6 separate regions of the Homo sapiens genome follow, and regions 1, 3, 4, 5 and 6 are each reported to be linked to region 2. Evidence: microRNA targets listed by miRTarBase, many of them from high-throughput screens and not tested one by one. Region 2 holds a microRNA gene; each other region holds the end of a gene's coding sequence.

Region 1 (4,103 bases), not on the chromosome of region 2:
GCCTCCCCTGTAGAGCCGGGACAGAAGGCACTGTGGAGTTGGGGGCATGCTGGCTGAGCATGAGTGTGTGCAGGCGTGGGTACGGGCTCATGAAGAGCTGTGTAGTCCACACACATCGTCAGGGTGGCCGTGCTTCGGGCCTAAAGGGCTTCCCGCAGCAGGGAGACGGTGCTCTCACACCAGAGTCTGCCAGCCAGGGGGCTTTCCCTCCCCTGGCTGAGCCTTCCTGTGACCTGAGCTGCCCCCTGCCCATCCAGGGAGCAGGCGGGGATCCCCCTGCGGAAGGACACAAGTGAACCCAGAATGGTGCCTCAAGGCAGGCAGCCTGGCCCAGATGGTGCCCCCACTCCCCAGACCCAACTCTAACCAGGCCTGGCCCTCTCCTGTGTCTTGCAGAACTTCAGCGAGAGGGAAGCATCGAGACTCTGAGTAACAGCTCAGGCTCCACCAGCGGCAGCATACCAAGAAACTTTGATGGCTACCGATCTCCGCTGCCCACCAATGAGAGCCAGCCCCTCAGCCTCTTCCCGACTGGCTTCCCGTAGGTACCAGCAACCTGCTTCTGACTGGCCAGCCCCCTCCCCTGCTGGAGGAGGGGAGAAGCCCCGCTCTGGTCCTACCCTTCAGTCTCTGCTCTTCCTTCATCAACCACCTTCCCCAAGCTTAGTGACAGCAGCCGCCCATCCTACCTGGATGGAGAAGAGACCCTTCTCCAAGCACCTCAGCGCACTTGCCCTCTGCCACACCTGTCGGTGGAGGCTGTGGCCAGGAGAGACTGTAGAAGCTCGGTCCCTGTGTATGTTTGCATATGACATCCTGCATTGGATCCGCTTTTGTATTTTTTAACCATACCCACGGTGGGGCGGGTGGGGGGAGCCTGGAACAGTGACCAGATCTGGGGGCCTGAGTGGGGACAGAGTTGATCGTCCACCTGGCCATTTTGACCCTGAGTGGACAGTCACAGCCTCAGCTCATGTCTGGCTGTGACACACACTGCCCCCAGCTTCCCTTGGTCAGCCCCACTCCAGCACGGGGTGAACGGAGGCCCAGAGTACTAGGGAAGGAGGAAGGGAGGACATGCCTCTTCTTCCTCCTTTCTTTCCCCATCTGTTCATGGGAAGAGTTTGTCTTTCTTATCTTTAAGCCCCTTTACCCTGGTCCTGTACTGATCAGTGAAGGAAACCGTGGTTACTGAGGCCCTGTTGAAAAGTGCACGTCTTGTCCAATAAATCACGCTGCAGTTGGTGTCCATCCCTGAGTTGCTGGGGTAAGGGTCCTCTCCAAATGCTGAGCAGAGTCCTATGGCCTGAGTGCCCAGGATCCCAACACCCCCTTTCATGTGCAACTTGGGGGCAGAAGGAGTCAGTGGAGGATTGGAATGGGAAGAACTTTTGTCCTGGAATTTGGATGGGGCCTGATTTAAGAAGCCCATTCTCTAAGCATCTTGCCTGTTACCAGAGGCAATGAGTTCTTGGGGTGCCACAGGGTTGGACCCTCCTCCCTGGGGATCAGGGCTTGCCATGTGCTGGTGGGTTGCTGTCAAGGGGAGAGTCTGGCAAAGCCTCATCTGGGGGGCACCTTGTTGTAATTGCCTCTTTTTAACTCAGAAGATGGAAGGGTGGTCAGGTGAAGGTGGGTATCTCATGAAACCTGGCCGGAACCCTCAGATGACACGTTCCTGATTTTGTCCCCCCGCCCCACCACCACCACTTCCGGACCTAAAGTAAGTGGCAACAGAGACAGGAACAGGGAGAAAAAATGGTGCATTGAGCAGGAAGGAGACGAATGCTAGTCCTTTGCCCCCTTCCCTGGCCCACACTTCCCAGAGACCCCAGGGAGGCCTTGGAGAATGGAAGGAAACCCACAGAGCCAGGTGTGATTTGGGGTAAAGTTTAATGGAAAAGCCGTGGAAACGTTGAGTTCACAAACAGGACTTCCCGTGCAACTGTCCAGCCAGACCTGGGGCAGCTCCTGGGGACCCTGCCCCCTTCACACACACCCATCCCATCCATGGTGCCTGAGAGGCCTTCATCTTCAGTTCCCTCCACCAGATCAGTTGGGCATGTTGGGGGCAGAGATGGAGGGTTGTTGAATCACACTAGGCTCTGTAAGCTGAGAAGACGATCCTGCACAGGGTGGCATAAGCCAGTCCCTCCTGCCAGGGCACCTGCAGGGCGAGAAGTCACATGCCAGACTGAGGCATGCTTGCGAACACTAGCCTGGCCCCAGCAGCAGGGGGTGCTGGAGGAGCTGCAGCTTTTCCCCATCTTGCTGAATTATTGATGGGCCTGGCACTGCCCCTACCCCCAGCTACAGCCATGTTTCAATCAAAAAGGGACAAGGAGGAGAGTGCTACCAGGCTACCTGTGCATGCTGCCCATGGCCTGTCTTCCTGGGGATGGGTTCAGCTGCCCTAGGAAGCATGAGCCCCTCTGAAACCACCCCAGGACACGTGGATGTGGCAGAGACCTTGCTGCCAGGGGCTCTCTCAACCATTCAGGGAACTGGCTGGCAGCTTACAGAGTCAGGAGTCCTCCCTGGCCCGGCCCTTCCCCTCCAGCAGGGGCAAAACAGCTGTGGCCTCCCCCAGGCAGGGAAAGTGGTGGGTGTAGGGCTGGACTTGCCGGCTGAGCTTGCAGGACAATCTGGTTATTCATCTGCTTGAAGTCAGGGCAACTCTTTGAGTATGTGGGGGAAGGGTGAGGATAAGAGAGACCAGATAAGCTGGCCCCACAGCGGCTGCCACTGGAGCTCAGGTTATCAGAAAGGCCTTGGGCCTGGCCTCCGGCTAATTGGGGAGGTTATGGAGCCTGCCATAGCCTGTAATCAGCTGGAAGGGAGAGCTGGGCCCCAGGGTTGGGGACCTTACTGGCCACTGGCCCCAGAGCAGCCGCTTCCTATCCTCTACAGATAACATCCAGGGCAATCTGGGACTCACCCCCAGCCCCAGCAGACCTAATGGTGGCATCATCTGGGAGGGCATCAGAACATGAATCAAACTGTGGCTGATCAGGGGACCTTTAGGAATCCATGTGACCTACCGATTCTCTCGGCACTACCTGGTCAACGGGCAGCTTTACTACGGACTTCCTCTCAATTTGATGAAGGAAAAATACCTTCATGATCTGGAAAGAGGCCGGTGGGAGCCAGCGTGGCAACTGAAGGAGCAAGAGTACTGTCTGAGATGAGAAAAGGCACGGTGGGCCTGAGGCCAATTCAAGCACACAAGCTCAAACACCAGGGCCAGCCCCTCTGTCAAGGAGCAGAGGCCAGGCTAGGCAGCCACCAGTCTGGAAGTGTATATGGTTTCTCAGTGGTAATTTTTTATTTTCACAATTCAGGGACTCATGAAACTAGAAAGTACCTGAGAGTTCTGTTCGAGCCTCATTTTTTTTGCAGATGACAAGCAAGCCTGAGCCCCAGAGAAGGGCAGGGCCTTGCCCAAGGTCACAAAGTCACACGCCTAGTGAGCCTATCCCTGTCTGCACCTGGCTGCTTCACACCCTGGCCAGTTCCCTTAGAGGGACCCAAATCCGAACTGACCTCCCTGTCCTGTGCCCCTATCCCATCCAGAATGCTGACCCCACTGATCCCCATCCTGACTCCATCAGGCTTCCTGCCTGGGCTGAGAGACTGAATTTGCAGCTGCTCCCTTGCCCCTGTGTAGCTGGAAGGCAGCCCTCCCACTGCAGACCTAGAACTGGAGGCTCTAGAGGCAAAGGGACAGTGCATCCTGTATGTCTCGAATTCAGAGCAAGAGCCCAGGGGAGGGTGGCAGCCCTGGCATCTCAGGATCACCTTGCTGTAGGAGCAGGGGTAGGCAGCTCAGCAGCACCGGCTTCTTAGGAGTGGGTTTGGACTTGCTCTCTTTAAGGTCCCAGGGTCCCATCCCAGCTCTGCCACCAGCAGGTACGTGGCCTTGGGTACATGACTGCACCTCTGGGATTCAGGGTCCTCATGTGTAAAGGAGGGAGTGGAGGGGAGAGAGCAGCATGCCCTTCCGAAGGCGCGACAGAGCAGAAGCAGGCAGAGGGGAAGCTGCGGGTCCACAAGGCAAACCCATGGTTCGAGGGGAAGTTGACAGCCAGGCCAGGTGCCCCTTA
Region 2 (4,103 bases):
TGCTAGAGGTTGCGTTGCTATTACTAATATCACCACGTTGCACTCACAACCGAGGACGGGAGAGACTGCTTGAGATGAGAGCGGGAGCTGAAACTCAAACCCAGCCCGATCTCTCTCCTCCTCCACTTCCCCCATGGTCCCAAGAAGTCTCTTGCTTTTAGAGGCTGTGGAGAAGTGGCACTATGACACCCAGGGAGAGGCAGAGGACACATGGGCAGCCTGCTCCACGAGGGTGGCAGGTGAAGGCTACGATACCCAGGATGGGCCAGAGATGCTGGGGTGTGCCCGGGTTAGGAACACTCAGAGTGAGGCAGATTCTGGGCCTTTACATGCTGGCGGGGTCCCCGGGTTGGGGGAGATTAGGCGGGTTCTGTACAGCCCTGGGGCTATGGAGGCAGGTTTTGGCTCAAGGCACAAAGGACTTTCTCATTGTCAGGAGTGCCGAGGAGGGCTAGAGATAGTGAGGGAAGGTGGTGCGAGCCCCATCCTCCGAGGCATGCAAGCAGGGCCCAAGCCCTATCTTCAAGCCCCACCCGTGGTCTGTGATGTCCCTGCTGGGAGAGGTCTCCCTGGAGCATGTCACCTTCTGAAGACCACGCGAACCTGGGGAGTTCAGCAGAACCCTGAAATGGAGCTTGGGAGATTCAGAGCAGGAACTCTGGGTGCCTGGCTCACCCCAGCTCCTCTCCAACCCTCTGCAGTTCCCTCCACCAGGAATGGTCCTCCCTCAGAGCTGGGTATCCCCTCCTGCAGGAATCCCCCCTCACCTGAGGACACTCTTAGTGGATTAGGGACTCTCCTGCCTGTCCCTTGTGAGCACCGAGAAAGCCATGCCTGTGTCCCCAGCACCCACCCTAGGGCTGGCCCCAGTGGCACTCAATAACTGCTAGAAAGTGATGGCTGGAGGCAAACCACTACCCCTGCAGGGGCCCTGAGAAGAGAAGGTGGAGAGATGCGGCAGCCCCAGAGCCCTGGGGTGACCTGGCCCCTTCCCATCCCCCAGCCCCCCTCACCTGGAGCACAATGGCTGGCACCGAGAAGATCATGGCTTCGTTGAACACCGGGTTGGGGTCATCCCTCTTCACGGCTGTCTTCTTTTTGCTCATCTTCCTCCCATCCTGCAGCAGGTACACCTTGACGAAGGGGTCTGTGGGCAGGCGGACAGGTGAGGGCCAGTGTCACACTCACTCACCACAGCCCTGCCCAGTTTGGCTCCACCCACCGACTCCAAACTCCCCAATGCTTAACTGTTGCTGTGACCTCCTGCAGCCCTGCCATTGGTCCTTTATTATTTTTCCCATTTCACAGATGAGAAAACTGAGGCTCACACAGCACGTCAGGTGAGGGCTGGGCTTTGTGCTCAGGCAGCTGCCTCACAGCCCACGCGCTCCCCTCCTAGGATGCTCTGGGGAACTCAGCAGCCCCACCGTGTTCCTTCTATAAATGGCCCGAGTGCAGACGTCAGCCCTGAGTCACCGGGCACCCGCACAGCAGAGCCTGACTCAACCGTGTGCGGCTCTGAAATAACAACTTGCCGTCTGCCCATCACCTATTGCCCACGGGGTGTCCTTGCCGCACCTGCCTGGAGCTGCCCCCCCCACCTACCCCCGCCCCAAGGCTTGCAACTCCCAATAGATCAGGCTCCCCCAGCCCCTGGTCTTCAGTTCTCTAGAATACAGCTGCCTCCACGGTCACTGCTTTGAGAGGGACTGGGGACTCCTGCAGACCTAAGGCATCGGGTCCTGCCTGGCACCCACCCCAACCCCGTGGCCCTGGTCCCTTTTTGGAGTCTGGGATACTGCCCTGTCTCTGGGAATGGAGTCTCCACCATGAATTCCAGTTCCAGGGAACAGATGCCCACCTTGGTTCCCTGCCCAGTGCCCCCAGCCCTGAGTGCGGCCTCCTGCCCTGAGACCCCCGCATCACTCTGACCCCCTTCACTCTGCCCTCACAGGGGCCCCTGCCACCCTCCAGGGATCTCATGTTTCCCCGGCTGGATTAATTGTCCCCATGCCACCCCCTATCCATCTGCATGACTTCTGGGCTCAGCAAAGCTGAGGGGGACCTTGGCACTGTGTCCCACACCTGCCGATGCCTCCGGGTGCCCACAGCACAGCAGCTGGGCCACAGCTTCCACTGAGCTACGTGGAGGAGCCGGGCTGCCGGCTGGGCCTTACCCGCTGTGGTCTTGTCGTTGGTCCAGATGAGGTTCTTGGCCTTAACCACGACCACGGTGAGGCGCTCGGCTGTGGGGAGGTAGCTGAGGGAGAGCAGGATCTCCCCCACAGCATCGGCGGCCTGGGGGACAGACAGGTGGCTCAGAGGGCTTCTCCCCACCCGACTTGAGGGGTCCAGGGAAAGCCTTGGTTGCCAGGGAAAGGCTGGGGCTTCCTTCTCCATAGAGAAGTGGCTGCACTGGGGGCCCCTTACCACAGGGCTCCAGGCAGGCAGGGACAGCCTGGAGAAAGGGACAGCCACCCACCCCCCGCCACTGCATGGAGCATGCCCCACTCCTCCCTTCCACCGGGAGGGTCCTGCCTGGGGCGGAGGGTCAGAGGCGGCCTGTCAAATGTAGCTATCAAATGTAGTTTCGTTCCCTCATTGCAGGCCAAGGAAAACACTGCGGTAGTAATACACAGCGATCAGAGTGGAATGGAATTAGATTCTTTGATTAAACAACAATGATGTTCTGTGAGCATTCCTACAATTATAAAACTAAAGTGCAGCTTGGTGTCTGTCTGAAATCATCCCCTCTAAGGCTAGAGGAATGTTTCTCTAGCAGAAGCTCAGTAGGGGTAGAACCTCTGAAGCTTTGGTGGCAAAGCAGCAGACGAGCTGTAAACAGTGGTCGGGATGTTTTTGAAATTTGCCTGCAGCAAGCAGTTTCCTCGGATGTGGCTCAGGTCTTCTTCTCTGCTCTCCTAATGATGATGGGGCTCAGGCTATTGCAGAGGATGATGAGGATGATGGAGTCCCTTCCTGGAAGTGTATGTGTGTGCACGCTCTTCCGAGGTGGACGAGCAGGCAAGTCACTTACCTTGTTCTGGTCCTGTAAATAGAGCCAGCCACTGAAGGGCTGCAGCGGGAGGTCAAGCACAGAAAGCTTCAGCTCCACCACCCCCGTGCTGACGTTGCGCTCATCCTCATCGATGCCAAATACAGAAAACCGCAGGCTCTTCTCCTCCAGGGCTGTGGGATCCAGGGGGATGGAGAACTTCTCATCAAAGAAGATGGAGTAGGCATTTCTCTGGATCTGCAGGAGAAAAGGCCATGGAGGGCGCTAGGGGCCTGAGAGGCCACAGCAGGGAGACAGCACTGGACAGGGAGTCCAGAGGCCCAGGCTAGAGTCCTGGCTCTGTTGTCTTGACACCCTCAATGCCAATCTTTCCTTTGGTGGCTCAGCCTTGAAGGTTTAAAAGCCTCCTGTCCTCTCCTCAGTGGCGGCCAATCTAGTGGCCTGGCGTTTTAAGCTCCCACAATCTGATCCCAACTAATTTCCGTCCTCAGTGCCCGTGGCACCCCAGAACCCTCAAGATGCCCTGGACGAGCTGGTCTCCATCTTTCTTGCATCTGTTCGAGTCTAGCCCTAGGCCAGGCAAGCAGTGGAGTGGGACAGTTGCCTGTGGAGTCACGAGCCACTGACGTCCCAGGTTCCTGCAGAGCCTGGCCCAGGACTGTTTGAACACCGTAGGCTGGATGGGTGGATGGAAGGGAGGACTAGGCGAGGTTGGGCCAACTCGGTTTCCAAGCCCAGTCCTGCCTGGTGGGCACCACTGACCTCCTCCCAGGAAGTTGTGGGCAGGCCCCCTGGGAAGGTGCATTGCGGGCTCTGTCTCTGGGGAATAAGGGGGATGCTTTAGTCACTGCCTGGTGATATTTAAAGAAAGGCGCTCTCATCCCTGGACCCTGCCTGAGGCTGGGGGGCTGCCTAGCCTGGGGGCAGCACCCCCTGGTGGGATTGCCCAGGCTGTTAAGCTGGGAAGCTTGCCTTCCCTGGAATAAATCCCCCAGCGCCACCGGCCACCATGACCACACTCTTCTGTCACTGCCTGGGTGTGGGAAGGCTCCTCGCACAGTGCTCACGTTCCCTACACAATCCCCTG
Region 3 (4,103 bases), not on the chromosome of region 2:
AAAAAAAAAAAAAAAATGGATAAACATTAAATCATCAAATATCTTACTTTGTTACTAAGCTAGAAAGTAGATGATTGTATTTTATGTTTGTTTCCACAGTAATTGTTGAAATAAAGGTTTCTCAGTTACTTCTTGGGTTAGCTGAGAGTGAGTAGCATAGAACACTGTTTCCAAGGCTCTGGATGCTGTTGCTGCCTAGTAGATGTCCTGTGGTGATAGAAATGCTCCAGCCTGCAGCGTCCCAGAGAGTAGCCACTAGCCACATGTCAGTTCATGCTTTTAAGGCTATATGTGCCTAGTGGCTGCTGTCTGGGATGGTGCAGCTCCACAGTTTTCTCTAATGGTGTTCAGGTACACTGAAATTAGGAATTTTTAATATTTTAACACATTACTTTGTTACAAAAAAACTTCTCACTTTGAATGCATGTTTTTTCTCATGAAACTTTTAATATTCCCTGAGCTTTTCTCCCCTCAAATTTCTAAAACTTTCTGTCCTTAGTGTCAGTAGAAAAAAAAGTCCAATAGACATATTTGTTCGTTTATCTTTAATTTGGAGCCAGCAAAAGGATGTGATTCTGAACCACGTGTTGTGTCTGCAGGAATTCAACTGAAAAAGGTGCAGGAGCAGCGGGAGCAGGAGGCCAAGCGGGAGCCAGTGGGGAATGACGTGGCCACGATCCTGTCCCGGCGCATTGCCGTGGAGTACAGCGACTCTGACGACGACTCAGAGTTCGACGAGAACGACTGGTCCGACTGAGCAAAGGCCGGCGGAGAGGCCGCGTGTGGGAGCGTGTTGAAGATTTTAAGTGGTCTCTACACCCAAATAGTGGTATTCTAATCCCGTAGCATAGCACCTTTTGTATAAACAATGTGATATTGCTTCTGCACATCCAAAAATTCTGGGTCTTTTCAGTATTTACTGTGTAATACTTAAGTGCCACTAAACATAGCAAATTGTGCTGCACATGAGGAAATAGGCTGTCACTATCACATTGTCCTGAAAACAGCATCTGCTTTCCTCTTGGCCATGAGAGTATTTAGTGCAGTTTGGGTTTACTCTTACTGATCAATATAACTCTGCAGACTTGCTGTGTGTTTGTGAAGCTGCCTGGTGTTAGGTCTCTGCAAGACTAATGACTATGTCAGAGTGATGTCTTCCAACCAGTAAGTGATATTGTTTCACCGCTTTGGTTTTTCCTTTTGTTTTTTTAAAGGATGTGTTTCTGAATAAGTTGGTTTTAGAGGGAAAGGTTCAACAAACAGGGAGAATCCAGTGTTTCTGCTTTCAGTTTCTTGGCTTGGTAGCCTCTGAGTGAATCTGATGCTCTGCTGAATAATTTCATTACCTCTGCACATGCCTGTCAAATATGAAATTGGAAGGGCCCTTTTCAGGCTGGGTTCCCTGTGGGCATTTGCTTAGTAAATGCCTGTTGATGGTTTTTGCAAGAGAATTCAGCAGCTCAACAGTAATGAAAGTGAAGAACAGAGTCCATTTTCCTTCCTGGGGCCATTGGGGATGACACTCAAGATACTTGCCAGTCTCTCCAGTGTGGGCACCAGCCGGCCAGAACAGATGCGAGCAGTCCATGACTCTGGGAGCTACACCGCTGAGCTGGGCAGAGCTGCGGCACAGGGCCTGGGCTGCAAAGGAGCCCTGCTCCTTTAGTTTCCTGACACCTGTGTCCTGAGTGAGCCGCAGGAGTTCTTAGCTCCTCAGCGAGCAACAGAGAGCACTTTAGATGGCACCTTTCACCACTTGGTCAGAATTTTAAAAGCTTAGGTTTAGGTGAAAGTAGATATTGACAGCTATTCACCTTTCACGGTGCTGGGGCCAGATTAGGGATCACTCCCGTGAGGAGGGCCTTCACCCTGTTCTAGAAGCACATGGTTGTCCTCCTGTTGTTGGCACATTAAATGATAAAAAGCACCTCATGAGATTCCCTTGATCAGCCCTGCAGCTGTAGTACAGTGCTGTGCCCTCACCTCCACCCTTCCTGTTGTTCCCACGTGGGCAATACCAGGGACCCATGGGGAAACTCAAGAATGACAGCTTCTATATTTTGTAATTCTGGATGAAAGATAACTGTGTTGAACAAACAGGTGCTCCAGGCTTTGATTATAGATACGACTTCAAAAATATGCTAAGACGCTTGACTTATTAAGGACTTTAACCTACTCAACAGTATTTCATATCCATTGTGGTTAGTTACTCAGTTATGTTGAGAAGAATCTGGAGCTAAAAGCAGAGATGTTTGAGGTGACGGTAGGAATGTGAGCAGGATGGTGATGGGGGTTTTTGTTAAAATGCATCTGAGCAAGTCAGCCAGCCCCGAAGTCCCCTCAGTGTGTGTGTCTCGAGTGGCTACCTGTTGGGCTTGTGGGCAGTGATTGTACAGAGCCTGTCCATTGGGTGCAGTCATGTAGATCTGAAGCCCTGAAAAGCCTCATGTCTGCATCCCCTTTCCAAGGCTGCTTCCCTGGTGTGTCTGTTCTCTCCTCTGTCCCAGGTGCTGGGAGCGTCCTCTTCAGCGTCTTTTCCTAGAGCTGGTCACCACTAGGCTGTCACTATAAATTCCTTGAATATAAGTAACAGTTATTAATGAACTTCTAAATTTCTAATTTCTCTCTCTCTCTCTTTTTTTTTTTTTTGTTGTTGTTAAAAAGGGCCTACTACATTGGCGCTATTCTTAGGACTTCTGCAACTTTTAAAGTCTTACTTGTCTTTCTTGTTGCTTTTGTATTAGGAGTTCCCCGTGTGGGTCTAGAACTCCCCTTTGGTAATGCTTCTTTGTTTTTTTATGGCCCTTCTGTTCTCAGGATGGAGAGAACACAGAAGCTACTATCCATGTCAGGATTTATTCTATTTATATCTTATTACAATAAAATTAGTGGCACTTTATTCATAAATATTCATGAGCCTGTTAATTGTTAGTTGTCTTCCTGTAGCTGAATCAACAAGTTATTTTCAACTCAATTTTATGACTTGCGAAAAAGCTTTTGCCCTGTTGTGTACCATAACATTTAAAAGAATGGAAAATGACTGAAATCCAATTTAGATTATTTTTAGAGTATTTTTCCAGCAAATTCAATTTATTCTGAAATTTAAATCCAGATCTTTTCTAATATGGTATTACAATGAAAAGAATAAAGAGAAGATTTGAATTTTCAGTTTCATTTTCAAAAACTATTTACCAAAACAAATGGAGAAGAAACATCCAAAAGCACATTTCATTTCTCCAAACTTTGTGTTTTAAATTATAGTTATAAATTGTAAGGTAATTTTAAATTGTCCCTCGTATTATTTCTCCACGTCTGTTTTAGTTTAATGTCTCCTAAGCTTTTCTCTCATAGCGTAGACCTAGGGAAGGGATGGGAAGATTGCCCAGTCCCCGATGGCTGCGCACACAGGAGGCGGCGGAGCACAAGGCAAGTGAGTTTGCACTGTCAGCCCCAGACCGTAAGCTTGGCTACACTGATGTTTTTCTTTACTAAGGATACTATTCAAAAATTAACATTTTCATCTCAGTAAGTTTTTAGAACATCAAAATGTTTTCTGAGCTCCAAGTGGCTAGGTTGTAAAAGTTTTATAATAATTTGCAATTAAAATACATGATACATATTAATCCATTAAAGACTAGTGGGAATGTATCAGCCAGAGTAGCAAGTAATTTTTGTTTTATAAATCATAGTATCTGTCATCTTGCAGTATTACCAATGCTGTTGTAAATTGAATTTAAAGTGGTATTAAAAAAAACTGTTAAACAATTTTTATCTGTTTGTATATCTTACTATAGATTATGTACAAGTAACATCTAAATAAAATTACACTTTTAACCCTAAGAGGTTTTGCTTATTAATAACAGTGTTGTATGTTTGGCTTTTTTGGAAGAGAACTTGGTGTTAAGTGGTTTTTTGTTTTTGCTTTTGTTTAGCATTTTCCTTATTAGACAACAGAAGACACTACTTTGGTTTCCATTTAAATTTCTACATAATTTTTGTGTCACCAAGAGTTCAGATTGAATTCCTGAATGACTCGGGGCAGCACTAGTCTGGTTAGAAAGAAAAGGCCATGCTGGGAGTAGGGCAGCCACCTGTTGAGAGGA
Region 4 (4,103 bases), not on the chromosome of region 2:
AACCAGGGGGGTGAGACTGGGTCATGTAAGGGGCGGGGCTCTTGGCTGGGGCGTGGTTCCTGGGTGGAGATGGGCGGGGATTTGTGGGTGGAGTTTGGGTGGGCGGCCCCGCAGTCGCGGAGGGGCGGGGCTTTGGGTAGCATAAGGGGCAGGAGCTCACGAAAGAGGTGTGGCTCCTGGGTACAATGGGAAGGGCAGGGCTTGTGGGTGGAGCCTGAGGGGTGGAATGGAGAGGGGGGCTCACGGGGGGCGGGGGGGTGCTTGTGTCTCCTACCAGAGGGTTTTCGCATCTTGGGGGTTAAGGGTGGGTCTTGGGGCCAAGAGCCCTGCGGGGTTCTCAGCGAGATGTCCCCTGAACTTCCCCTGGCACCCGGCCTGCAGAGTCCTGTGAGCACGTGGTGTGCCCGCGGCCACAGTCGTGCGTCGTGGACCAGACGGGCAGCGCCCACTGCGTGGTGTGTCGAGCGGCGCCCTGCCCTGTGCCCTCCAGCCCCGGCCAGGAGCTTTGCGGCAACAACAACGTCACCTACATCTCCTCGTGCCACATGCGCCAGGCCACCTGCTTCCTGGGCCGCTCCATCGGCGTGCGCCACGCGGGCAGCTGCGCAGGTGCAGACGCAGGGCGGGGGCACAGGCCTGTCCTGGGGGCCGGAGAACCCCCTGCCCTGCGCCCTCAATGCTCTTATCGACCCTTGCAGGCACCCCTGAGGAGCCGCCAGGTGGTGAGTCTGCAGAAGAGGAAGAGAACTTCGTGTGAGCCTGCAGGACAGGCCTGGGCCTGGTGCCCGAGGCCCCCCATCATCCCCTGTTATTTATTGCCACAGCAGAGTCTAATTTATATGCCACGGACACTCCTTAGAGCCCGGATTCGGACCACTTGGGGATCCCAGAACCTCCCTGACGATATCCTGGAAGGACTGAGGAAGGGAGGCCTGGGGGCCGGCTGGTGGGTGGGATAGACCTGCGTTCCGGACACTGAGCGCCTGATTTAGGGCCCTTCTCTAGGATGCCCCAGCCCCTACCCTAAGACCTATTGCCGGGGAGGATTCCACACTTCCGCTCCTTTGGGGATAAACCTATTAATTATTGCTACTATCAAGAGGGCTGGGCATTCTCTGCTGGTAATTCCTGAAGAGGCATGACTGCTTTTCTCAGCCCCAAGCCTCTAGTCTGGGTGTGTACGGAGGGTCTAGCCTGGGTGTGTACGGAGGGTCTAGCCTGGGTGAGTACGGAGGGTCTAGCCTGGGTGAGTACGGAGGGTCTAGCCTGGGTGAGTACGGAGGGTCTAGCCTGGGTGTGTATGGAGGATCTAGCCTGGGTGAGTATGGAGGGTCTAGCCTGGGTGAGTATGGAGGGTCTAGCCTGGGTGTGTATGGAGGGTCTAGCCTGGGTGAGTATGGAGGGTCTAGCCTGGGTGTGTATGGAGGGTCTAGCCTGGGTGAGTATGGAGGGTCTAGCCTGGGTGTGTACGGAGGGTCTAGTCTGAGTGCGTGTGGGGACCTCAGAACACTGTGACCTTAGCCCAGCAAGCCAGGCCCTTCATGAAGGCCAAGAAGGCTGCCACCATTCCCTGCCAGCCCAAGAACTCCAGCTTCCCCACTGCCTCTGTGTGCCCCTTTGCGTCCTGTGAAGGCCATTGAGAAATGCCCAGTGTGCCCCCTGGGAAAGGGCACGGCCTGTGCTCCTGACACGGGCTGTGCTTGGCCACAGAACCACCCAGCGTCTCCCCTGCTGCTGTCCACGTCAGTTCATGAGGCAACGTCGCGTGGTCTCAGACGTGGAGCAGCCAGCGGCAGCTCAGAGCAGGGCACTGTGTCCGGCGGAGCCAAGTCCACTCTGGGGGAGCTCTGGCGGGGACCACGGGCCACTGCTCACCCACTGGCCCCGAGGGGGGTGTAGACGCCAAGACTCACGCATGTGTGACATCCGGAGTCCTGGAGCCGGGTGTCCCAGTGGCACCACTAGGTGCCTGCTGCCTCCACAGTGGGGTTCACACCCAGGGCTCCTTGGTCCCCCACAACCTGCCCCGGCCAGGCCTGCAGACCCAGACTCCAGCCAGACCTGCCTCACCCACCAATGCAGCCGGGGCTGGCGACACCAGCCAGGTGCTGGTCTTGGGCCAGTTCTCCCACGACGGCTCACCCTCCCCTCCATCTGCGTTGATGCTCAGAATCGCCTACCTGTGCCTGCGTGTAAACCACAGCCTCAGACCAGCTATGGGGAGAGGACAACACGGAGGATATCCAGCTTCCCCGGTCTGGGGTGAGGAATGTGGGGAGCTTGGGCATCCTCCTCCAGCCTCCTCCAGCCCCCAGGCAGTGCCTTACCTGTGGTGCCCAGAAAAGTGCCCCTAGGTTGGTGGGTCTACAGGAGCCTCAGCCAGGCAGCCCACCCCACCCTGGGGCCCTGCCTCACCAAGGAAATAAAGACTCAAGCCATTTTGGGGTGTCCAGGCCTCAGTTTGTCTCCTCTCTCAAGGCTTCAGGCCGCCCCCACGGCTGTGGGATGGGCAGCCTGGGGCCTGGGGTGCCGCATGGGTGCTCTGGAGGCACGGGAAGAGAGACCCAGCATTAGTCCTTGGGCAGCCTCTGGCCGCCTCTGGGCCTCAGTGCCTCTCCAGGCAGTGGACAAGCCCGGGAGGGGCTGAGGCAGAGCGGGAGGGGAGGGAGAGAAAGGAGGTCTTTTGGGAGGGCACACAGGATAGACAAGATGGCTTAGGGCAGCCCTAAGACACCAGCTGGCTTGGGACCCAGAAATGGAGGCCCGGTCTTGAATGACTTGGGTGTAACGATAGCAGTAATAAAAATAACAGGATTAGGGCCCGGGTGGGGTAGCTCACCCCTATAATCTCGGCGCTTTGGGAGGCCAAGGCGGGCGGGTCACTTGAGGCCAGGAGTTCCAGACCAGCCTGGGCAACATAGTGAGACCCTCATCTCTACAAAAAAAAAAAAAAAAAAAAAAAAGACCCAGGCATGGTGGCATGCTCCTGTGGTCCCAGCTACTCAGGAGGCGGAGGTGGGAAGATGGCTTGAGCCCAGGATGTCAAGGCTGCAGTGAGCTGTGTTGGCACCACTGCACTCCAGCCTGGGTGACAGAGTGAGACTGTTTCTAAAATAATAATAATAGCATAATTGGCCGGGCGTGGTGGTTCATGCCTGTAATCCCAGCACTTTGGGAGGCCGAGGCAGGTGAATCATGAGGTCAGGAGTTCGAGACCGACCTGGCCAACATGGTGAAACTCCAATCTCGGTGAGCCGAGATCGTGCCACTAAACTCCAGCCTGGGGGACAGAGCAAGACCCCATCTCAAAAAAAAAAAAAAAAAAATTAGCCAGGTGTGGTGTCATGCACCTGTAGTCCCAGCTACTTGGGAGGGTGAGGCAGGAGAATCGCTTGAACCTGGGAGGCAGAGGTTGCAGTGAGCCGAGATCGCACCACTGGACTCCAGCCTGGGTGACGGAGTGAGACTCTGTCTCAAAATAATAATAATAATAATAATAATAACAACAACAACAACAAAAAGGCCCAGCGCGGTGGCTCACCCGCGCCTGTAATCCCAGCACTTTAGGAGGCCAAGGCTAGCGGATCACGAGGTCAAGAGATCGAGACCATCCTGGCCAACATGGTGAAACCCCATCTCTACTAAAAATACAAAAAATTAGCCGGGTGTGGTGGTACATGCCTGTAGTCCCAGCTAGTTGGGAGGCTGAGGCAGGAGAATGGCTTGAACCCAGGGGCAGAGGTTGCAATGAGCCGAGATTGCGCCACTGCACTCCAGCCTGGTGACAGAGTGAGACGTCATCTTAAAAAAATAATAGGCCGGGCGCGGTGGCTCACGCCTGTAATCCCAGCACTCTGGGAGGCCGAGGTGGGTGGATCACGAGATCAGGAGATCGAGACCATCCTGGCTGACACGGTGAAACCCCGTTTCTACTAAAAATACAAAGAATTAGCCGGGTGTGGTGGCGGGCGCCTGTAGTCCCAGCTACTTGGGAGGCTGAAGCGGGAGAATGGTGTGAACCCGGGAGGCGGAACTTGCAGTGAGCCGAGATCGCACCACTGCACTCCAGCCTGGGGGACAGAGCGAGACTCCATCCAAAATAA
Region 5 (4,000 bases), not on the chromosome of region 2:
AGCTCACTATAACCTTTAACTCTTGGGCTCAAGTGATCCTCCTGCCTCAGCCTTGTGAGTAGCTGGGACTATAGGTGTATACCATTACACCTGGCTGTTTTTTACATTTTAAAATTTTTTTGTAGAGATGAGGTCTCCCTTTGTTGCCCAGGCTGGTCTTGAACTGCTGGGCTCAAGTGATCCTCCTGCCTCGGCCTCTCAAAGTGCTGGGATTATAGGGATAAATCACTGTGCCTGGCCAAAAATGAGTGTATTGCATGTGGTAAGCTTCATGAATTAAATCTAGAAGTTAAACCAATATAACATTGATTATTCAAATATCAATCTGCTTTGTTATAATTAATACTATTCTAATTTTAAATGTCTCCTTCTTTTTCTTTTTGCAGATTCTGTGTCATAAATACCTTATTGGAGTGTTAGCATATTTGACAGAACTGGCAATTTTTCAAATTGAGTGAAGCCTTATGTGGACTATAAGTTATAGATTATATACTCTTATTGATAACTTGCCTAATTGCTATGCTGAAAGAGACTGCAGGAGAAATAGGCATCTATCTCTGCATCTGTTTTCCCCACCATGCCTTTGGAGTTGCCAAGATGGAAGCCAAGAAGGATCTAGAAGAACAAAGAATATGGTAGTAGATGAGCCACAGCCAGGTGCCCATGTACTAATCATGATAACCTGACATGCCATTCTCAAAATGCTGAGTTGTTAATTTCTTGTCATCTTTAAATATATATATATAGGCTGGGCTTGGTGGCTCACACCTGTAATTCCAGCACTTTGGGAGGCTGAGGTGGGTGGATCATTTGAGGCCAGGAATTCAAGACCAGCCTGGCCAACATGGTGAAACCCCTTCTCTACTGAAAATACAATAATTAGCTGGGCGTGGTGGCACATGCCTATGATCCCAGCTACTGGGGAGGCTGAGGCAGGAGAATCGTTTTAACCCAGAAGACAGGCTGCAGTGAGCCAAGACTGCACCACTGCACTCCAGCCTGGGCAACAAAGTGAGACTCTGCCTCAAAAAATAAAAAAGAAATAAAATAAATAAATACAGCGTTTATTATGTTTAAACTCTTAGGATTCAAATGAGATGTATCTAATGGATATTTCTGATTTGGGTCTTTAAAACCTTTAATCTCTTTTAAGCATTTTAGACTTGCATTCAGAAAGAATTCTGTCTTCTAAAGACATTTTCCTAGCATTTCACTGCGGAGAACTGGCAATCAAAATCCCCTCAAAAGGGAACTAAAGATTAATATACACATTTTTTTAGTCATTAATATGCTTCTGTTTTAAATACAGTTCAACTCCTGTTGCAATGTTGAATTAAATGTTTATTTTAAAATGAAGCAATGTGTTTATCAATGTCTCGACATCTTTTAATTAATATCTCAGTAGTGGAAATTGGTAGGCTTTTTCTGTTAACACAGAGGGTACAGACTAACAATTATATAGAATCTTACAAATTGTAGAGTTGAAAGGCACCTGTGAGCCCCTTTTGAGGTCAGAAATTATCTTATTTAACCTTCATGTCCCAGTTTAGCATAATGCTTGGTAAATATCTATAGATTAAATCAATTTTAATCAACTCTTTCTTTTTACAGATGAAAACTGTGAGATCGAGGAACTTAAGAGTCTTGCCCATGATGTTTTATCCAAATCTCTTCTTTTTACTTACTGAGCATAAGATTTTCTTTTACTTTAGGAATAATTTTTTAAAAATCTTGATTGAAAGAAAATTATTAGGCTGTCATTCTCAAAAAAACAAAGATTGACTACTGGAATGGGATATTATTTCAGATGTACTAGGAGCAGTAGATGTAATGGGAAAAGCATGGGCTTTGGAGTCAGACATTCATCCATTCAACTAATCTTAAACTCCTACCATGTGCTTAGAATTGTACTGCATAATAGGAATATAGCAGTGAAGAAGTGAAAAAAGGTCTTTGTTCTGAGGAAATTATATTTTAGTGAAATAAGGCAAAAGGTTAATAATTTCAGATGGAGACAAATGCTATGAAGAAAATAAGGCAGTGCAATATGAAAAAGGGTGACTGGGGTGGGGCCTACCTTTCATACAGTAGTCAAAGAAGGTCTGTCTGAGGAAGTGACCTTTTGAACTGAGTCCTGAATGATGAGTTGGAACCAGCCATGTGAAGATCTGAGGAAGGGTGTGCTAGGCAGGAGAAACCTTGAGATAGGTAAGAGTTTGGCTGCTTTGAAGAACAAAGGAAGTTTTTTGGCTAGAGCATAGTGAATAAGGGTGTATGGCCTATTATGAGCTGAAACTGAATAGGTTGTGCAGCAAAGACTTCTTCCATGGCATAAAATGTCCCAATTTTTGGCTAGGGCACCTGGCTGCCCAGAATAAAGATGATATTTTCCAGCCTTCCTCGTAGGTAGGTATAGTCATATGAATATGTTCTGATTTGGGATACAAATTGAAGTGTCATATAGAGCTTCCAGAAATCTTACCTATAATAAAAAACAACTGGCATGTACCCCTTCCCCCTTTTCTTACTTTTCCCTTCTTCCAACTTTGCTGCCTGGAACATTGATATTATGACTAGTACTATAGCTATTCTCTTAGGTCTTGGGGTTGAGGAACAAGTCCTAGGGATGACAGAGCATGGCCTGGGAGGAGCTTGTGCCCTGAGGTTTTCTTGAAGGTGAACTCCAGTGCCAGCCTTGGGCAGTCTTCCTCTAGACTTACTTGTCAGAGAAGTAAACTTCTCTCTTGTTTTAGCTGTTGTCATTTTGGGTCTTTCTTGCTCATAGTCAAACTTAATCCTAACTTGATACAGAGGCAGGAGCTCTATCATCTAAGTTTTTATAGTGTGAAGAGATTGGATTTTATTCTAAATGCAATGGGAAGCCACTGAAAGATTTTAAGTAAGAGAGTAATATGATTCAATTAGTATTTTATAGGATTTTATAAGATATGAGGGAGAATGGGTGTAGGTAGACAAGAGTGGAAGAAGGGAAACAGTTAAAAGGTTATTGCAAATGATAAAACCCTAATGGAGAAGAAGTTAGCAATATTAAACAAAACTATGTGTGCAGTCACCCTTTGATTAGCAATTCCACTTCTAGGATTCTGTCCCAAAAATTCACTGGCAAAAAAATATGAAATGAAGCATGTACAAGGTTACTTATTACAATAGTATTTGTAATAGCAAGACTAAAAACAACTCAGATGCTCATCAGGCCTGGTATAGCTGCAAAATGAATTACTACTATGCAGCTATAAAAAGGATTGGGGAAGATATCTCTTTACTCCCATGGAGTGATCTCCAAGATGTACTGTTATGTGAAAGAGCAATGTATGTGGACAGAATGTAGAGTATTGTACTTTTTATGTAAGGAATGAGGGAGATATGAGTGTATTTCCTTATGCTTTCAAAAAACAATGAAAGGATAAACCACAAACTTATAACTGTATTTACTTATAGGGAGAAGGAAGGAACAGAGTAGAGGGGACAGGAATGAAAGTTAAGATTTACCTGAATGTTCCTTTTTAATAGTTTAGAACCATGTAAGTGTTTTGTATAATTATGAAAGAAAATTAGAACAAAAGGAAAAAACAAAGCAATCCTTAGCAATTAAAAAAAAATGAGCCTAACTGTATTAAGTTCATGGCATAATCACACAAGTTTTTTTATTCTTTTTTGAGACACGGTCTTGCTCTGTTGTCCAGGCTAGAGTGCAGTGGCACAATCACAGTTCACTGCAGCCTTGACCTCCCTGGCCCAAACAATCCTCCAAACTCAGCCTTCCAAGTAGCTGAGACCACAGGCATATTGCCACCAAGCCTGGCTAATTTTTTAATTTTTGTAGAGATGAGGTCTCCCTATGTTGTTCAAGCTGTTCTCCTGGGCTCAAGCGATCCTCCTGCATTGGCCTCCCAAAGTGCTGGTATTACAGGCATGAGCCACTGTTCCCAGCCCACACAAATTTTTTTCAGTATCTATTTTAATTTAATTTACTTTTATT
Region 6 (4,103 bases), not on the chromosome of region 2:
GCCTTCATCAAGCAAGGCCGCAAGCTCGACATTGACTTCGGAGCCGAGGGCAACAGGTACTACGAGGCCAACTACTGGCAGTTCCCCGATGGCATCCACTACAACGGCTGCTCTGAGGCTAATGTGACCAAGGAGGCATTTGTCACCGGCTGCATCAATGCCACCCAGGCGGCGAACCAGGGGGAGTTCCAGAAGCCAGACAACAAGCTCCACCAGCAGGTGCTCTGGCGGCTGGTCCAGGAGCTCTGCTCCCTCAAGCATTGCGAGTTTTGGTTGGAGAGGGGCGCAGGACTTCGGGTCACCATGCACCAGCCAGTGCTCCTCTGCCTTCTGGCTTTGATCTGGCTCACGGTGAAATAAGCTTGCCAGGAGGCTGGCAGTACAGAGTGCAGCAGCGAGCAAATCCTGGCAAGTGACCCAGCTCTTCTCCCCCAAACCCACGCGTGTTCTGAAGGTGCCCAGGAGCGGCGATGCACTCGCACTGCAAATGCCGCTCTCACGTATGCGCCCTGGTATGTGCCTGCGTTCTGATAGATGGGGGACTGTGGCTTCTCCGTCACTCCATTCTCAGCCCCTAGCAGAGCGTCTGGCACACTAGATTAGTAGTAAATGCTTGATGAGAAGAACACATCAGGCACTGCGCCACCTGCTTCACAGTACTTCCCAACAACTCTTAGAGGTAGGTGTATTCCCGTTTTACAGATAAGGAAACTGAGGCCCAGAGAGCTGAAGTACTGCACCCAGCATCACCAGCTAGAAAGTGGCAGAGCCAGGATTCAACCCTGGCTTGTCTAACCCCAGGTTTTCTGCTCTGTCCAATTCCAGAGCTGTCTGGTGATCACTTTATGTCTCACAGGGACCCACATCCAAACATGTATCTCTAATGAAATTGTGAAAGCTCCATGTTTAGAAATAAATGAAAACACCTGAGCTGGTGGCTGTGTACTTTGACTGGTACATGGAGGCTATTTTAATCCTTCTAACTAAACTAAAATAGATTAAAGGAATTAAACTAAAATACAAGTAAAGCTAGACAAAGGCCCAGAAATCATACTGTAAGGAAATGTTATTGGAAGCTGATTCCCAGAGCAGACCACATATACAGCAGGATGTGCCTGTGGCATGAAGATTTTCTTTCTCTTTTTTTTTTTTTTTTAGATGGAGTTTTACTCTTGTTGCCCAGGCTGGAGTGCAACGGCATGATTTTGGCTCACTGCAGCCTCTGCCTCCCAGGCTCAAGCACTTTTCCTGTCTCAGCCTTCCGAGTAGCTGGGATTACAGGTGTGTGCCATCATGCCTGACTAATTTTGTATTTTTAGTAGAGACAGGGTTTCACCATGTTGGCCAGGCTGGTCTTGAACTCCTGACCTCAGGTGATCCACCCACCTGGGCCTCCCATAGTGCTGGGATTCAATTTTTTTTTTTTTTTTTTCAAAAGAAGGGTAAGTGCTTGCTGTTCCCATCCCTGAAACATTGCATGTATTTAAGAAAAACAAAATGTTAGTGGCATATTTGCTTCTAATGTTCCCCTAACCCTACATGCATGTTTTATGTGCACTCATATGAGTATCTTTAAATATAATCCCTTTACATCTGTGTTCTATGCAAAGTCTCTCATTTCTTTCAAGACAGCCTAATGAAGGCCATCATCTCTGTAAACCACTTGTCACTACAAAAATACAATTACTCACCAAAAAGCTTTAAAAAATAAAGCTGTGTCTTTAGGGAGACCCAATAAAGAATGCAATCCATGCCATAAGCAGGAGTTGATACACCACCTTATTAGCTAAAAATATATATAACACAATATGAGTAATGTTTAAGATCTGTTTTAAATTTAAAACAATGAATTGAATGCTCTAAGAGGCTCCTACAGGCGCTCCAGGCCACTCTCAGAGACTCCCAGGAGTTGTTGAACTATATTTGGAGAAAACAGCCACTGAATATTATCATTTCTCCTTTAAAGAGAGTTTGTAAGGGGGGAACATGCATTTTATCAGACAATTTATCCAAAGCATTGCAGAACATGAGTGCTGATGAGGGCACCTCTTGTGCTGAGTCCCCTCAGCTATCAGTGTTCTTCTCAAGGACACATTTGGAAGGTTTTAACATTGAAAGTGAGCGGAGGACTTGGGGGCAGAGCAGCACAAAGAAACAGCCTTACACTGGGCACATGGAGGAGACGTCCACCCTGCAGCCAGGACTGGGGTTCACGTCACTGCCAGAGCTACACTCGCCTTCTGCTTCCACGGTCCTGTTAATTCTAGATCAGAGAGCAAGAAAAAAGTACAGAACATATCCTCTACGGTTATTTCCTGCTTTCTAATTAAAAAAATAATAACCATGGCAAGAGAGAAAGAAAGAGAAAGTACTCAGAGGCTGACACTGACATTTCACTTCCTCGCTCTCCTAAGTTTAATTACAACAGCACGTGCAGCCACGTCAGCCAAATGACTTCATTTCTGATGTGAAAACGCTTAGGCCATGATGTCGTTCATTTTCTGTAATTGCTGCCTTTTCTCATTCTGTTAATAGTCCCGGCAACCAGATTTCAGTGGGGCATGACGTGAATGTGTATATGGTGATTCAAATGCAAAATTTGTTTATGGGGCTTTTAATCGAACGCGTGTGTGCCTGAACATTCTTGCTCAAGTTGATGAATCATGGGGTGGAATAAAGGCTGAGTTTAGTTTTTCACTTTAGCAAAGGGGCAATGGGGTGCCTACTATGTGCGAGACATTGGGAGGGGCTTCTGAATTATTCTGGATATCGTCATTTTGCAGTGTGCATAATTTTGCCAACCGTTGCTTTCGTAGCCCCTGCTAAGTGTTGACTTTTTAAAATATAAGTTTATTGTAAAAGTGACATGAAAATTACAACAGATATTCCAGACCAAAATAATACAACAATCCCAGCATCTGATTGAGTCAGTGTTTGCTGTTTCCCCTGCACTTTCCTAGTTCTTAAGCATTTGCGTATGTAAACATTCATATTTGCAATAAAAAAGTGAGCTTTTATATTCTAAATTTTTACTTAACTTAATTCAATGCTTTCTACTCATTTTTCTATACTTTTTTTTTTGAGGCAGAGTCTCATTCTGTTGCCCAGGCTGGAGTGCAGTGGCGTGATCTTGGCTCACTACAACCTCCACCTTCCAGGCTTAAGCGATTCTCATGCCTCATCCTCCCAAGTAGGTGGGATTACAGGTGCCCACCACCAAGCCCTGCAAATTTTTTTGTATTTTTAGTAGAGACAGTGTTTTGCCATGTTGGCCAGGCTGGTCTCGAACTCCTGACATCAGGTGATCCACCTGCCTCGGCCTCCCAAAGTGCTGGGATTACAGGTGTGAGCCACCACGCCCTGCCTACTCTTTGTTTTCTTTCCTCCCCACCCATTTTCCCCCGTCCTGTCCCCTCCTTCCAGCCTGAGATGTAGGCTCCACCTTAACTGTGCTCAGATACACAAGTGAGGGCTTTTTAACTTGATTATGCCTTTTAAAAATACTATGTATGTAAAATATTTATTCATCTGCAATTTGGCTTCCCTAACTTAACATTGCATCATGAAACTCTTTGGAACAACAGCTATCTAGATAGCTGACTCATTCTTTTGGATTGCTACGTAATCTCACTTAATACAGATGTATCATGATTGATTGAATCATTGCCTTGTTGATGGGCCTTCAGATTATTTCCAGTTTTTTGCCACTGCAAACAATAAACATCCTTGTACATACTACATTGCAGTCTGGTACTTCTGTTTCTGTGGAATAGATTCACACGTGCAAAATTTCTGGAACAAAGCCTGTGTGTAATTTAAATTTTACCAGCCATGACCGGGCTATGCTCGCACATAGCTGGAGCAAATCCTATTCCCACCAGCTGTTTACGGCATTAATTTGGAAGAGTTTCTGTCATTTAACTATGAGAAGCCACCTTTTCTACAAATGTTGCCTACACATCTTCTCTCTTTTGCAAACGGCACACCTAAAGCTCTCTAAAACTTTCGGCCATGAGGACCATTTGAAAATCCTCCTAAAACTGTTAGCAATTCTCATTCTAAACCTGGTCCTTGGCCCAAAACATCTGCATGAGAAGCCTGGA

What was found. Region 2 holds the annotated microRNA hsa-miR-6860 (ACUGGGCAGGGCUGUGGUGAGU, at 1,187-1,208, opposite strand). A microRNA usually pairs through its seed, bases 2 to 8, with sites in the 3' UTR of a target mRNA and lowers its output. Matches are read on the target gene's strand: a 7mer-m8 pairs with bases 2 to 8, a 7mer-A1 pairs with bases 2 to 7 and ends in A, and an 8mer does both.
Region 1: miRTarBase lists BCAS3 as a target of hsa-miR-6860. Seed matches in the 3' UTR shown: 7mer-A1 at 1,045-1,051.
Region 3: miRTarBase lists WASF3 as a target of hsa-miR-6860. Seed matches in the 3' UTR shown: 7mer-m8 at 3,380-3,386.
Region 4: miRTarBase lists FSTL3 as a target of hsa-miR-6860. Seed matches in the 3' UTR shown: 7mer-m8 at 1,645-1,651 and 8mer at 2,334-2,341.
Region 5: miRTarBase lists CENPL as a target of hsa-miR-6860. The part of its 3' UTR that is shown has no 7-base or 8-base seed match.
Region 6: miRTarBase lists PRND as a target of hsa-miR-6860. Seed matches in the 3' UTR shown: 7mer-m8 at 456-462, 7mer-A1 at 717-723, 7mer-A1 at 1,040-1,046, 7mer-m8 at 1,177-1,183 and 7mer-m8 at 3,102-3,108.

The regions. Positions count from the first base shown.
Region 1 is chr17:61,391,581-61,395,683 of GRCh38, forward strand. BCAS3 (BCAS3 microtubule associated cell migration factor) reads left to right here. Exons shown (of 24, transcript NM_017679.5): 24 at 397-1,251. The coding sequence ends at 545. It overlaps TBX2-AS1 (TBX2 antisense RNA 1), which reads right to left. Exons shown (of 2, transcript NR_125751.1): 2 at 1,876-2,167. Among named protein-coding and RNA genes, the nearest start is that of TBX2-AS1, 6.0 kb to the right of the region's middle.
Region 2 is chr11:67,042,788-67,046,890 of GRCh38, reverse strand. It overlaps MIR6860 (microRNA 6860), which reads right to left and starts at 1,248; the gene lies at 1,183-1,248. It overlaps SYT12 (synaptotagmin 12), which reads right to left. Exons shown (of 8, transcript NM_177963.4): 5 at 3,038-3,253; 6 at 2,178-2,298; 7 at 1,014-1,147. RefSeq lists enhancers at 486-565, 666-795.
Region 3 is chr13:26,685,089-26,689,191 of GRCh38, forward strand. WASF3 (WASP family member 3) reads left to right here. Exons shown (of 10, transcript NM_006646.6): 10 at 600-3,860. The coding sequence ends at 757. All of the region lies in intron 1 of LOC107984597 (a long non-coding RNA gene), which reads right to left. Among named protein-coding and RNA genes, the nearest start is that of GPR12, 74 kb to the right of the region's middle.
Region 4 is chr19:680,952-685,054 of GRCh38, forward strand. It overlaps FSTL3 (follistatin like 3), which reads left to right. Exons shown (of 5, transcript NM_005860.3): 4 at 382-609; 5 at 699-2,434. The coding sequence ends at 757. Among named protein-coding and RNA genes, the nearest start is that of FSTL3, 6.6 kb to the left of the region's middle. RefSeq lists enhancers at 1-531, 532-1,080 and a silencer at 62-161.
Region 5 is chr1:173,796,906-173,800,905 of GRCh38, reverse strand. CENPL (centromere protein L) reads left to right here. Exons shown (of 6, transcript NM_001387287.1): 6 at 387-1,356. The coding sequence ends at 458. Among named protein-coding and RNA genes, the nearest start is that of DARS2, 26 kb to the left of the region's middle. RefSeq lists a silencer at 2,149-2,349.
Region 6 is chr20:4,724,723-4,728,825 of GRCh38, forward strand. PRND (prion like protein doppel) reads left to right here. Exons shown (of 2, transcript NM_012409.4): 2 at 1-3,738. The coding sequence ends at 360. Among named protein-coding and RNA genes, the nearest start is that of PRND, 4.9 kb to the left of the region's middle. RefSeq lists an enhancer at 2,331-2,420.